Regions from separate parts of the Homo sapiens genome. Here region 2 is linked to region 1. Evidence: fine-mapped expression QTL. A gene starts in region 1. The other region holds a variant in brackets. All regions are shown on one strand. Distances are from middle to middle.

Region 1 (5,373 bases):
GCCTTTGACTGATCGGATGAGGCCACCTACATGATGGAGGGTAATCTGCTTTATTCAAGGTCCATTGGCTTAAATATTTTTTCTATCTAAAAAAATACATTTGTGGAAATGTCTAGACCAGAGTTTGACCAGAAACTGGGCAGTGTGGCCAGGCCAAGTTGATGTACAAGATGAGGCATCACAGAAGCCTTCCTAATTGGACAGCATCTGTGGGGGTGCTCGGACCCCCCCCCCGCTCCACCGCCCCATCCGCCGGGAGTCAGCACACCCAGCTGCAGAGAGCTGCCTCAACTGAGGTCGCTCCCCTCCCTATGAGCAACCGGTGCAGCTCCCCGGGGCCCTCTGAAGGGCCATCGATCTTCAGAATCTCTGCCTGCGTTGCTGGGGCTTCTGTTGTAGCTCATCACAGCTCCCCGCCAGCCCTGCCTTCTCTTGCCCTTTCTGTCCACAGTATCAACGCAAGAGCCCTCCCTAAGTAACGTCCTGCATGTTCACCTCCAACTCAGGGTCTCTTCCCAACCCTAGCCTGCGACGGGGCCACCTTCATAGCTGGCTTTCTTCTTCATTGTGTTCTGTATCTGACATTTCTTCTCTCACCTGGCTGGCTGTGCATCGTGGGTCTTCTGCCCTGGGACATGGGCTCCGTGGGGCAGTGCTGTGTCAGAGTACCCCTGCCATGCCCCTGGCACCTCTGTCACCTGCTACATGAAGGGACAGATAAACCGGCAGGTGTCTACTCTCAGGCTCTGGTCGAGATGCAGGCTGAACTTCTGGGATGCCTAGGGAAGCAGGACCCTTGGGCAGGACCCCGGTCACAGGACTTGGATCTGCAGCAGGCCTGCATCTACACACATGATAAAATGACATAGAATTCAACATGTGCATTGTATCAATGTCAATGTCCTGGCTTCAGTATTGAATAGCTACATAAGATGTTACCACTGGGGGAGACTGGATGAAGACATCAAAGGACTTCTTTATATTATCGTTGCAACTTCCTATACATCTGTGGTTATTTCAAAATTTAAAAATTAAGCAAATAAGGTTAGGATGCAAAATTATATTCTTTATTTTGATTGCATCCCTATGTATTCATAAGAATAATGATCAAGAGAGTCCAAAGAATTGTATTTAGAATTTTTTTAAGTTAATGGTGAAGGTATTGTTTTTGTTATTTATAATTTTATTCACCTTTCTAATAAATAATTATTGGGGGAAAAACTAGTTCCATGTGATATAAATATATATGAGAGTCTGTGAACACTCACTCATTCATTCTATAAATATTTATTGAGTGCAATAACAACAGAAAGCCTTGAACATCTTCAGCAATTTTCAGCAGTTTCCCGACCTGGGAGGCAACAGTAACATCCTACTTCCCTGAAAGCTGGCAGTAAACTCCAAGTCCCAACTTTTGATGTTCCAGCCCTTCCAATGGTTGTATAAACCCCTGACTCCCTGCCCTAAACCTTTTTCCATTGGGGGCCTCGTAAGGTGGCACCTAGCCCCACTAACACGGCATGTGTGTGTGTGTGTGCACCTGCACCTGCACCTGCACCTGCACAGGAGTCAGCTAGAAAGCACAAAGGCGAATGTGTCACTCCTGTGGCATGGGACCATGAATGGCCTCTGTTTGCCCTCTAGTTCTCTGGCTGGGAACTCAGAGATGTCCCTCCCTGTCCAATCTCATCTCCTGCCACTCCCCATACTTCCTCCCCAGCAGCTCCGCTCCAGGACATTGATAACTGTGAATAGAAGACAGTCGTTGGGAGATTTCACCGCAATCTGAATGACCACTCACTTTTTATCTCCACACAAGACTGTGAGCCCCTTGAGGATGGAGGCTCAGTTGCATTTTTCTTGGTACCACTAGAAATCAGCATTGAAGTTGGCAAAAAGTAGGGATCAGGGATTTTTTTTTTCTTAAATTCATGAGTGAACGCTGTCTCCCTGGTCAAACTGTTTTCAGAGGATTGAGATAAGGAGGCATTTGTCTGCAGGTTCCCATCTCCAGAGCAGAGGCTCTGCATGATGTCTTCAAAGCCAGATTGGATCCCTACCCCGGTCTGGAGTGTGAGCTAGAGCCTCGGCCCTCACCAGCATATGCTATAGCAAGGGCTCTGGGCAGGGAGGCATCAAACCCCAGGTGCTCAGGGGGACTCTGCTCCCCTCCATTTTTTCTAGAAATGTACCAGGACCCCTTCCCTGTGCTGGGTGCTAAGGATACAGCAGCAAACAAAATAGGCTGTCCCTCTGTCTTCACGGGCACAATATTCAGCCAGGCTCTTTGCCTCAGTGTCCCCAAGTGTTAATTGGAGACAGTAGCTCTTATATTGTGTGGTTGCTGCAAGGGTAAAATGAGTTAGAAGACATCAAGGGCTTAGAACGGTGCCTGGCACATAGTAAGTGCTAAATGAATCTGGCTATTATTAGATCATGGAGCTTATTATTAGATCACGGGTGAGTCAGAGGATAGACAATCAGGGAGTAACTAGGACCATCTTAGAGTGAGCTAAGTGCCTCAGGCGAGATAATGCAGAGGTGGGGGACAGAGTGGGTGGGGAGGGGAGCCGCCATACAGTGGCCAGGACCAGCTTTGCCCAAGTGGTGGCAACCGCATGACCACAGGAACGATGGCGTGAGCCCCGTGGCAACCTGGAGGAAGGGTGTGCTGGGCAGGGGAGGGCGGTGCAAAGACCCCAAGAAAGAGAGTCTGGCCCATTGGCCAGCACGGCTGGAGTGTGGGGACAGGGCAGGGGTGTGCGGGGGAGACTGGAGTCCCAGGAGAGGCCAGGTTGCAGGGCATTGAGGGCCAGAGGAGGCACCTGGGCCTGTTCCATTCCCAACCCTCAGGATGGCCCACCCATTACCCACAGCTGCACGTGAACGTCCTTTGGCGCTGGCCTCCAGGGTGGGGAAACCAGGTTCCTGCAGAGAGGGGCAGATCTGAGTGTCCCCCGCCCTCGCCTGGGTGCACTCAGGGTCAGGCCTGGTGCCCGCAGAGTCCATCCCATGCCTCATTACCCCCGGCTGGCTGAGGCCCACCCTGGGCTCCTGGTGGGTGGGGGCACTTCTGTGAGCTCCACCACTGTGTCTGTGAGCCCAACCCCGACCAGCCCCCTCCAGCTTCTGGGGCCTGCAAGGAGGAGGAAGGCCAGGGTAGAGGGAATGGAGAGAGACTGTTCCATGCAGAGGGGTGAGCCACCTTCTGCGGTGGAGGCCAGGAGCAAGGATATGCTCTGAGCCTGGTCTGGGGCCCCTCCCCCACTTCCCACCTCCCAGCTCTTCCCTCCTAGAGACACCTTCTTTGTCTGCAGAGGCCACTGCTTTGATTCTGTTGTTGCTAGGTGATGGGAACTGGGGGGAGCAAAGAGTGGGGAACTGGGCAGGGTCTGGCGGGGCTGTGGTGGGGGAAGCTGAAGCATGAAGGCTCGAGGAGCACACAGACACCTACACACAGCTCCGCGGGCATGTGGGGACCCAGACCCACCCCCACAGCAGACACCCCCACAGAGCACTCATGGCCCCCACAGAAATACACCCACACTCATCACAGCAAACCAAAACAATCACACGCCGGTACACAAACACACACACCCCCGCACCAATCCAGGCAGACACAAAGCTCACGGCGACAGGCAGATCTGATTCACACAGACACAGGCACAGGTGCTTCCTGATGCCACCCTCTCTTGGTCACGTGCCAGCACTTGGAGGGAGGAAAGTGCCTCACCAGGCTGAGATGCCCAAGGGACCCCCCAGGGAGGGAAAGCAGGACACACTGGGACAGTTGCTTCCAGCCCTGTCCACACCCTTGTGCCCATCAGGTATGCCGCTCACCCCCACCCCACCTGGACCTTGGTGTCACCTAGGATTGCAGAGGCCGCCTTCAGCCCAGAGCCTGGGGCCTTGCCCACTGCCTCACCTCCCAGGATAGGGCATGCTGTTCCTTTCTCCTTCCCTTTCTTTGCTCTTGTGTGCCTGCCTTTAGCAAACGCCCACTGGGTGTGTGGGTACACTGCGGCCTTTAAAGAGAAGAGAAACACATGAGGCTTACAGCAGGAGGCCCTGCCTAGGTTCCAAGGGACATGGAGCAGGGTGGCTGTGTAGAGCTGGGGAGCATCCCAAGCCTGTGCCAAGGTTCCAAGGACAAAAAGGGCAAGGAGGCCCAGTGCGGGGTGGTGGGGGAGCAGCTAGCCAGGGCCAACAGTGAGCCTCGCGCCTGGGCAGGTGTAGCCTTTAAACGCGGTGGGGGAACCATGGACAGCATCTAAGCAGGGACGTGCCGTGAGTCCTGGGGGTGCAGGGGTGTCTAGAGGGGAAGCTGGGAAGCAGGGGTCACAGCTTTCCGACTGGTGGCTGAGTGTGGGGAAGACAGGAGGGGCAGGTGTGAGATGTACAGCAGACACAGCTGTGTGCTGGGGCATGGTGGGCTGTGGTGAGAGAGAGGAGCAGGTCTTCTCCCCGCGTGTTCAGAGCAGATCCAAACTCTTCTCCCATTCCTTCCTCCACCGTGCATCCTCAGCACCCCTCAGCACTGGCCTGTGTGGGCAGCGTGAGCACAGAGAGCAGGAGCTTGCCCTCAGAGGCTTCAGGGGGTCGCTTGTACCCAGTGGTATGGTCAGCATCATGTTTGACCAAAGGGAGGAAGGTGGCTGTGACCAGAGCGAGGGGGGGTCCTGATGCAGCTGGGGAGTCAGGCTCGAGTGCATGCTGTGCATGTTCTCTGCCTCTCTTCCTGGGGGGCAGGCGAGTCTCCAGAGCCTGGAGGACAAGTTAGCCTTGCGAAGGATAGCAGAGGACCCAGCCCAGGGGTCCCCAAAATGGAGCACCAACCCTCCATGCAGGCCAAGCCACTGGTGAATATGCTGCAAAAAATATGCTGGAACTTCTATGAATACCACAGGGTGTGAGAAGAAAACATTAGAACTTCTATTTTGTACCTGTGTTACTCCACAACAAGAAAGCAATCAGCTTGATCAATGCCTACTGTAAAGACGGCACCGCCCTCCGGAGGTCCTTTCTCAGCCCTGGTGTTCGGACAGCCACATCCCCTCGCAGCAGGGGGAGGCCTGAAGCATAGAGGGGCCCATGCAGGTCTATTCTGTTTCAGCGAATTGCCTGGGTAAGTGGATTTGTGGATTATAGTCTCTGGTTTTAATTAAACTAACCCTAACAAAATGAGCAAGTGGCTTAAGAAGTTTCATGTGAAGGAAATGTGTTTTGAAGATAATGGAAGCAAGAGCTTAAAACAAGAAATGGTAACTCGGCACTCTTCTTCACTCCTGGAAGGAGCCACTCAGGGTGCACAGTACTAGGTAAATACAGCGTCTATGGAATCGGCCCTGATGAGGAGTCGGACACAGAAATTAC
Region 2 (5,373 bases), 580 kb before region 1:
CTCTTTCAAGTCTCCTTTGCTGTGGAAATACATTTCTGTTGGCCTAGGGCTTCATAAAGATCTTCTGAGTGACATCTTACTTGAGGGGACAAAAAAATGAGTCAAGCATTCTTCCAAATGCTAGCTTTACGCATCGCTATTGTGGCTGTGTGGGAGATGAAAAAAAGGAAAACAAGAATTAGAGACATGATTTTTATCTTCAAGGGGCTTACAGTCTCTCCAGGGCAGAAAGAAAGGAAATCATGACAGCACAGGAGGACTCAGTATGAGTGCTCAGCTTTGAGGTATTGACTAATATTAAATGCAGCTGGAATTTAAGGAGGCAGCACTGTGGGCTGGTACAGCTGGAAGGGTTGAGACTTGACATTTTCCCTTCAGAGCTGGGAGAGGATTTGGCTTTGCAGGGAAGATAAGGGCCTTTCAGGCAGAGGACACCGTGTGGCTTCTTGGGATTCGTGAGGGGACTGGCCAGATACTTGAAACTCACCAGAGTTCCCAATTTGAGCTTGCTTATTCTTCAAAAGGGCCGCTTGATGTGGGCAAGTAGGAGCTTGGGGTTGTGTGTGAAAAGAAATGGGCTTTAAATTCCAGCTCTAGTATTGACTTGCTATGAGACCTGAGGCAGGTCCCTTAACTTTTCTAAGCAAAAGCATACTCTACCTATTTCAAGCAATTATTAAACTGATCGATTGTAAGATAATGACTTGCATTATAATTTTGAAATGATTACTGATTGTGTATCTTATATTGGTATCTTACAAGAGGAAGAAGTGCTATATTTGTGAACAGTTTTTTCTCTTCCTATATAAAAGCAAATTGTGAACAGTTTTTTAAACTGTAAAGTGCCATACAGATGTGAGCTTCAGTTACCTCTCTCCAGGCAACATTAGCTTGTCCAGTGCATTTACCATTTATTTGCTTGCTATTCCTTATATCTTAGACCTTCTCTTTCCCTCCATTTTTCTTCTTCCTAAAGTAAATAATTTAGAAATTTCTTCTAGAAGTTTGTTGGTGGGAAAGTCTCTCACGTTTGCATTCATTATGTTGCCCTTGTTTTGAAAAAGAGCTATGTTGGCTATATAATTCAGTTGACAGATATTTTCTTCAGTACTGTTTCACAGTACTTCTCTCTCAATGTTATTTGCTCCTTTGGCTTCTGTTGTTTTTGAGAAGTCTAATTTTGAGGGTTTTGAGTCTTCTTTCTGCATGTTTTTGAGATATTTTTGGGTTTGGTGTTTCACTATTATATGTCAGAGTGGATTAATTTTTGTTTATCATGCTTAATGCTAATTGTGCTTCTTGAATCTGAGTATTATGTCTCTGCTCAATTCTGGAAAATTGTCAGCCTTAGGAGAATCGCTTGAACCTGGGAGGCAGAGGTATCAGTGAGCCAAGATCATGCCATTGCACTCTAGCCTGGGTGACAGAGCAAGACTACGTCTCAAAAAAAAAAAAAACAAAAAAACTGTCAGCGTTAATCTCTTCAGCTATTGCCTTTCCCCATTCTCTTTGTTCTTTCCTTCTGGAACTCCACTGAGATGAGGTTAAGATTGCAGTGGTTTTCAACCTGGGGCAGTTTTGCCCTTGCAGGGGACTTTGACAACGTCTGGAGACATTTTTGGTTCTCACGACTTGGTTGGGGGTGCTACTGGCATCTAGTGGGTGGAGGCCAGGGATGCTACTAAACATCCTGTAGTGCACAGAGCAGTTTCCATAATAAGGAATTATCTGGCCACAAACGTCATGGAGTCAAGCTGAGAAACCCTGGGCTAGAGCTTCTCGTTTTGTCCTCTTTGTCTTTTAGCCTCTCATATTTGTTATCTTTTTGACTCTGCTAAATTATGGGTAATTTCTTTTAGATCTTTGTTCCAGTCTAATTGTCTCTTAAGCTATGATTAAGTGACTGATTAATCCAATCTATTGAATATTTTTTTCCTTTTCATTTTGAAAAGTTTGGAACCTACAAAAAACTTGAAAGAATAGTGTGATGAGCCCCTCTATACCCTATACCTAGATAGCCAGTTATAAATATTTTGTGACATTTGCTTTTTCTCTAGTTTATTTCTGAACCACTTGACAGTAAGTTGTAAGGATGTCTTCCTACATGACCACGGTGCCATCATCAGACCCACCTTGCTAATGCTATTATATTCCCCCAATTTTTGTCAATTAAAAATTAAATTAATTAATTTTTAAAAAATGAGCAGCAGAGCCAGGGAGAGAATGGTGTCTCAGGAACCAAGAAAGGAGAACCTTTAAAGAAAGGAGTAGGTAACCATATCCACTGTGGTAGAGAAATCACAAAGATGAGGGAGCCTGGCAGCTCATCATATGATTCCATGAGCAGTTAACAAATGTGCTTTCAAAGACAACGAAGTTAAATTGTTTTAATGAAAAGAAAATATAGGTGATAGAAATCAGAAAACATCTTTCCAAGTTGTTTCAGTTTTTGGCTTTTTAAAAAACACCAGAATATCAAAATGCAATCAAAGATTACACACTGCATAAATTGTTACAAGTTATAATGTCTTTTTTTTTTTTTTTTGAGATGAAGTCTCGCTCTCTTGCCCAGGGTGGAGTACAGTGGCGTGATCTTGGCTCACTGCAATCTCTGCCTCCCAGGTTCAAACGATTCTCCTGCCTCAGCCTCCTGGGTAGCTGGGATTACAGGTGCCTGGCTAATTTTTGTATTTTTAGTGGAGATGGGGTTTCATCATGTTGGTCAGGCTGGT[C/T]TCGAACTCCTGACTTTAGGTGATCCACCTGCCTTGGCTTCCCAAAGTGCTGGGATTACAGGCGTGAGCCACTGTGCCTGGCCCCCAGATGTATTTTGTTATGGCCCACCTTTTTTACTCATGTGTGGCCCTTCAAGAGTCCTCTTTTATGTTTTTTTTTTAATTGTAATGTTTTTGTTTGTTTGTTTGTTTTTTGAGACAGTTTCAGTCTGTCGCCCAGGCTGGAGTGCAGTGGTCTGTTACCCAGGCTGGAGTGCAGTGATCTCGGCTCACTGCAGTCTCTACCTCTTGGGTTCAGGTGGTCCTCCCACCTCAGCCTCCTGAGTAGCTGGGACTACAGGTGCACACCACCACGCTTTGGCTAATTTTTGTAGTTTTCGTAGAGATGGGGTATCGCCATTTTGCCCAGGCTGGTCTTGAACTCCTGGGCTCAAGCAATCCACCTGCCTCGGCCTCCCAAAGTGCTGGGATTGCAGGCTTGAGCCACCGTGCCCAGTCCCGGTTTTATTCAGGGGTTTCTATCTTAAGTGCTATACCTTGCTGAGCTTTCCTGTATCTACAGTCTCTGAACTTTCAAGGCAAATAGTTTACTGCTCTGAATGTTATTATTTATTCAATTCTAGGTGTTTTGTAAGAGGAGAGGTTTTCAGTGGACCCAGTGTGCCATATTGCTAGAAGCATATGTCTTTCATTTTTTTTGGTGATATTGTATTGCTTTCCTCCCAGGAAATATGAGAAGTGCTCAGCACTGTGGTATTACCTTATAAGTTTGTCCACTCCCTTCCAATGTGTATGAAGGAATTTGGTGACTTCTGCTTAATGGTTTGCTGCAGGGTCCCAAAGTTTAGGCAACTTACCTGGGTGACAGGCAGAAATACTGCTTATTTTAGAGATGCAAATGCATGGTTCATATGCATTTCCACTCTTGAGGACCTCACACTGTTAATAATGGGTTTGGGTTTTAGAAGAAGGAGATATTCAGATGAGATTGAAAAATAGAGATTTCTTCAACCTTCTTTTGGCAACAACCTCTTTTTTGTGCCACTTGTCACTCACATGGGGTGAGTACAAAAAAAAATGGCTTTGGAGATTGGGGTTTGCATCCTGGTGCTGCTGCTTGCGGTTTTACCTTGGGTGTGTTGGTAACTTTTGAGTTTGTTTCTTAATCTATAAAATACAAACTAGATGATCAAGGTCATAGGCTAGTTGGGGAGATTCGATGAGGTCTATGCAGCACTCTGTAGTAGGTGTAGGAATAGTAGCCATATCATATACTTTCCCTCTGGAAGTCTTTAAATGGAGGAAACGAGACACACATGAAGCTTTTTTTTTTTAACCAAGTATTTATCATATTTTAATGGAAGTATGTTCATCTCTTCTGTATTAGTTAAAGGGAGGGAGAGTGCCATTGAATTGGATGTGGTCACTGTCTTTGAAGTTCAAAACTGAGGGTAGGGAATTGGGGCTGGCAGAGATACAAGGAAGAGAAAGGAGTAACTGGGAAGGGGTGGTCCTGTCCAGCCTGTGGCCCCACGGGGAGTCTGCTGTTAGAGTGCTGCTCCTCTCATTGTGCCCTTTCATGTTCCAGAGATTTTTTTCCTTTGCTCTTAGAAGAATACCAGTTTTCAAGGTGTCAGCCTTGAGCTCACAAGTGCAGATGCCTAATGAGGCAGGCAACGGGGATGAGGGAAGTGGCTGGGTGCACTGTGGCGTGTCTGCCTTGAGCCCCAGGTGCTCGGCCTTGCTGAAGGTCACCATGAGACTGCAGGCCAAACAGAACCAGGCTGTGAGCAACGAGTTTGCCACTTGTGATCTAGCATGGCACTTTAGTACTTTCATTTGACAGATGAGGAAATCGGGCACCTGAGATTTGCTGAGTGCCCAAGGTCACACTGAAAATTAGTGGCAGAACCAGCACTAATCTTTCTGTTCCTGGCTAGTGCATTTTATACTGTGCTATACACTGATTCTCTACCAGATTTTACTACCTCAAAACTATCACCAAAAGGGCATAGAAAAGAAAATCTGAGAGGAACCTTGACTGTTAATTTTAAGACACCGTCTCAGTTTCACTTTGTTCTTCAGTAACAAGCTTGTTTTCAGTCTTAGCCCATATACCTGGGGAGCTGGCCTTACTCGTGCTCCTGTTTCAGAGTTGAGGAAAGATGAAAATGGCATTTAGAGGCCATGGCATTGCCCAGTTCTGTACCAACTTTAAAGCATTTGCTTGCCATACTTGACATTTGACCGTACACCTGTGAAGTCTGGTTCTGTTTAGCATTTGCCAGCTGTAATTATCTTGTCAAAAATCAATTTGTAGTTTACCACAGGGCGTGTTTAAGTGTAACTTGTTAAGACCAACTCATAGCTTCAAAATCCTACTTGAGGTATCCTTCTTCACTCTTTGTGGGCTACATAACATAAAATGAACAATCCATTCATTCATTCCTTCATTATTTCTGATGGGTTGTAGATTGGTGTTTTCCTGTATTTGTAAAAAGAGAAAGCAGGTATCTCAAAGATCCAGTGGTGTATTCGGAGCAATTAGGTCAGAGCCATATATTGATATTGAGAGAACAATTTTGGATGACTGTAAAGTTGGCCCTTCCTATCTGTGGGTTCCACGTATGTGGATTCTGCC

Evidence for each region. PIP is the estimated chance that this variant, and not a neighbour inherited with it, causes the effect. A credible set is the group of variants that fine-mapping cannot tell apart.
Region 2: its variant is the best candidate, but not a certain one, in a credible set for the expression of LINC02034 in cerebellar hemisphere (GTEx, PIP 0.70).

The regions. Positions count from the first base shown.
Region 1 is chr3:127,534,938-127,540,310 of GRCh38, reverse strand. LINC02034 (long intergenic non-protein coding RNA 2034) reads right to left here and starts at 2,962. Exons shown (of 7, transcript XR_007096067.1): 1 at 2,875-2,962; 2 at 2,228-2,344; 3 at 1,802-1,959; 4 at 598-844; 5 at 1-26. It overlaps LINC01471 (long intergenic non-protein coding RNA 1471), which reads left to right and starts at 2,531. Exons shown (of 7, transcript NR_125397.1): 1 at 2,531-2,638; 2 at 4,848-5,125.
Region 2 is chr3:128,113,701-128,119,073 of GRCh38, reverse strand. All of the region lies in intron 2 of RUVBL1 (RuvB like AAA ATPase 1), which reads left to right. Among named protein-coding and RNA genes, the nearest start is that of RUVBL1, 7.4 kb to the left of the region's middle. The variant C/T (reference allele first, on the strand shown) is at 2,733.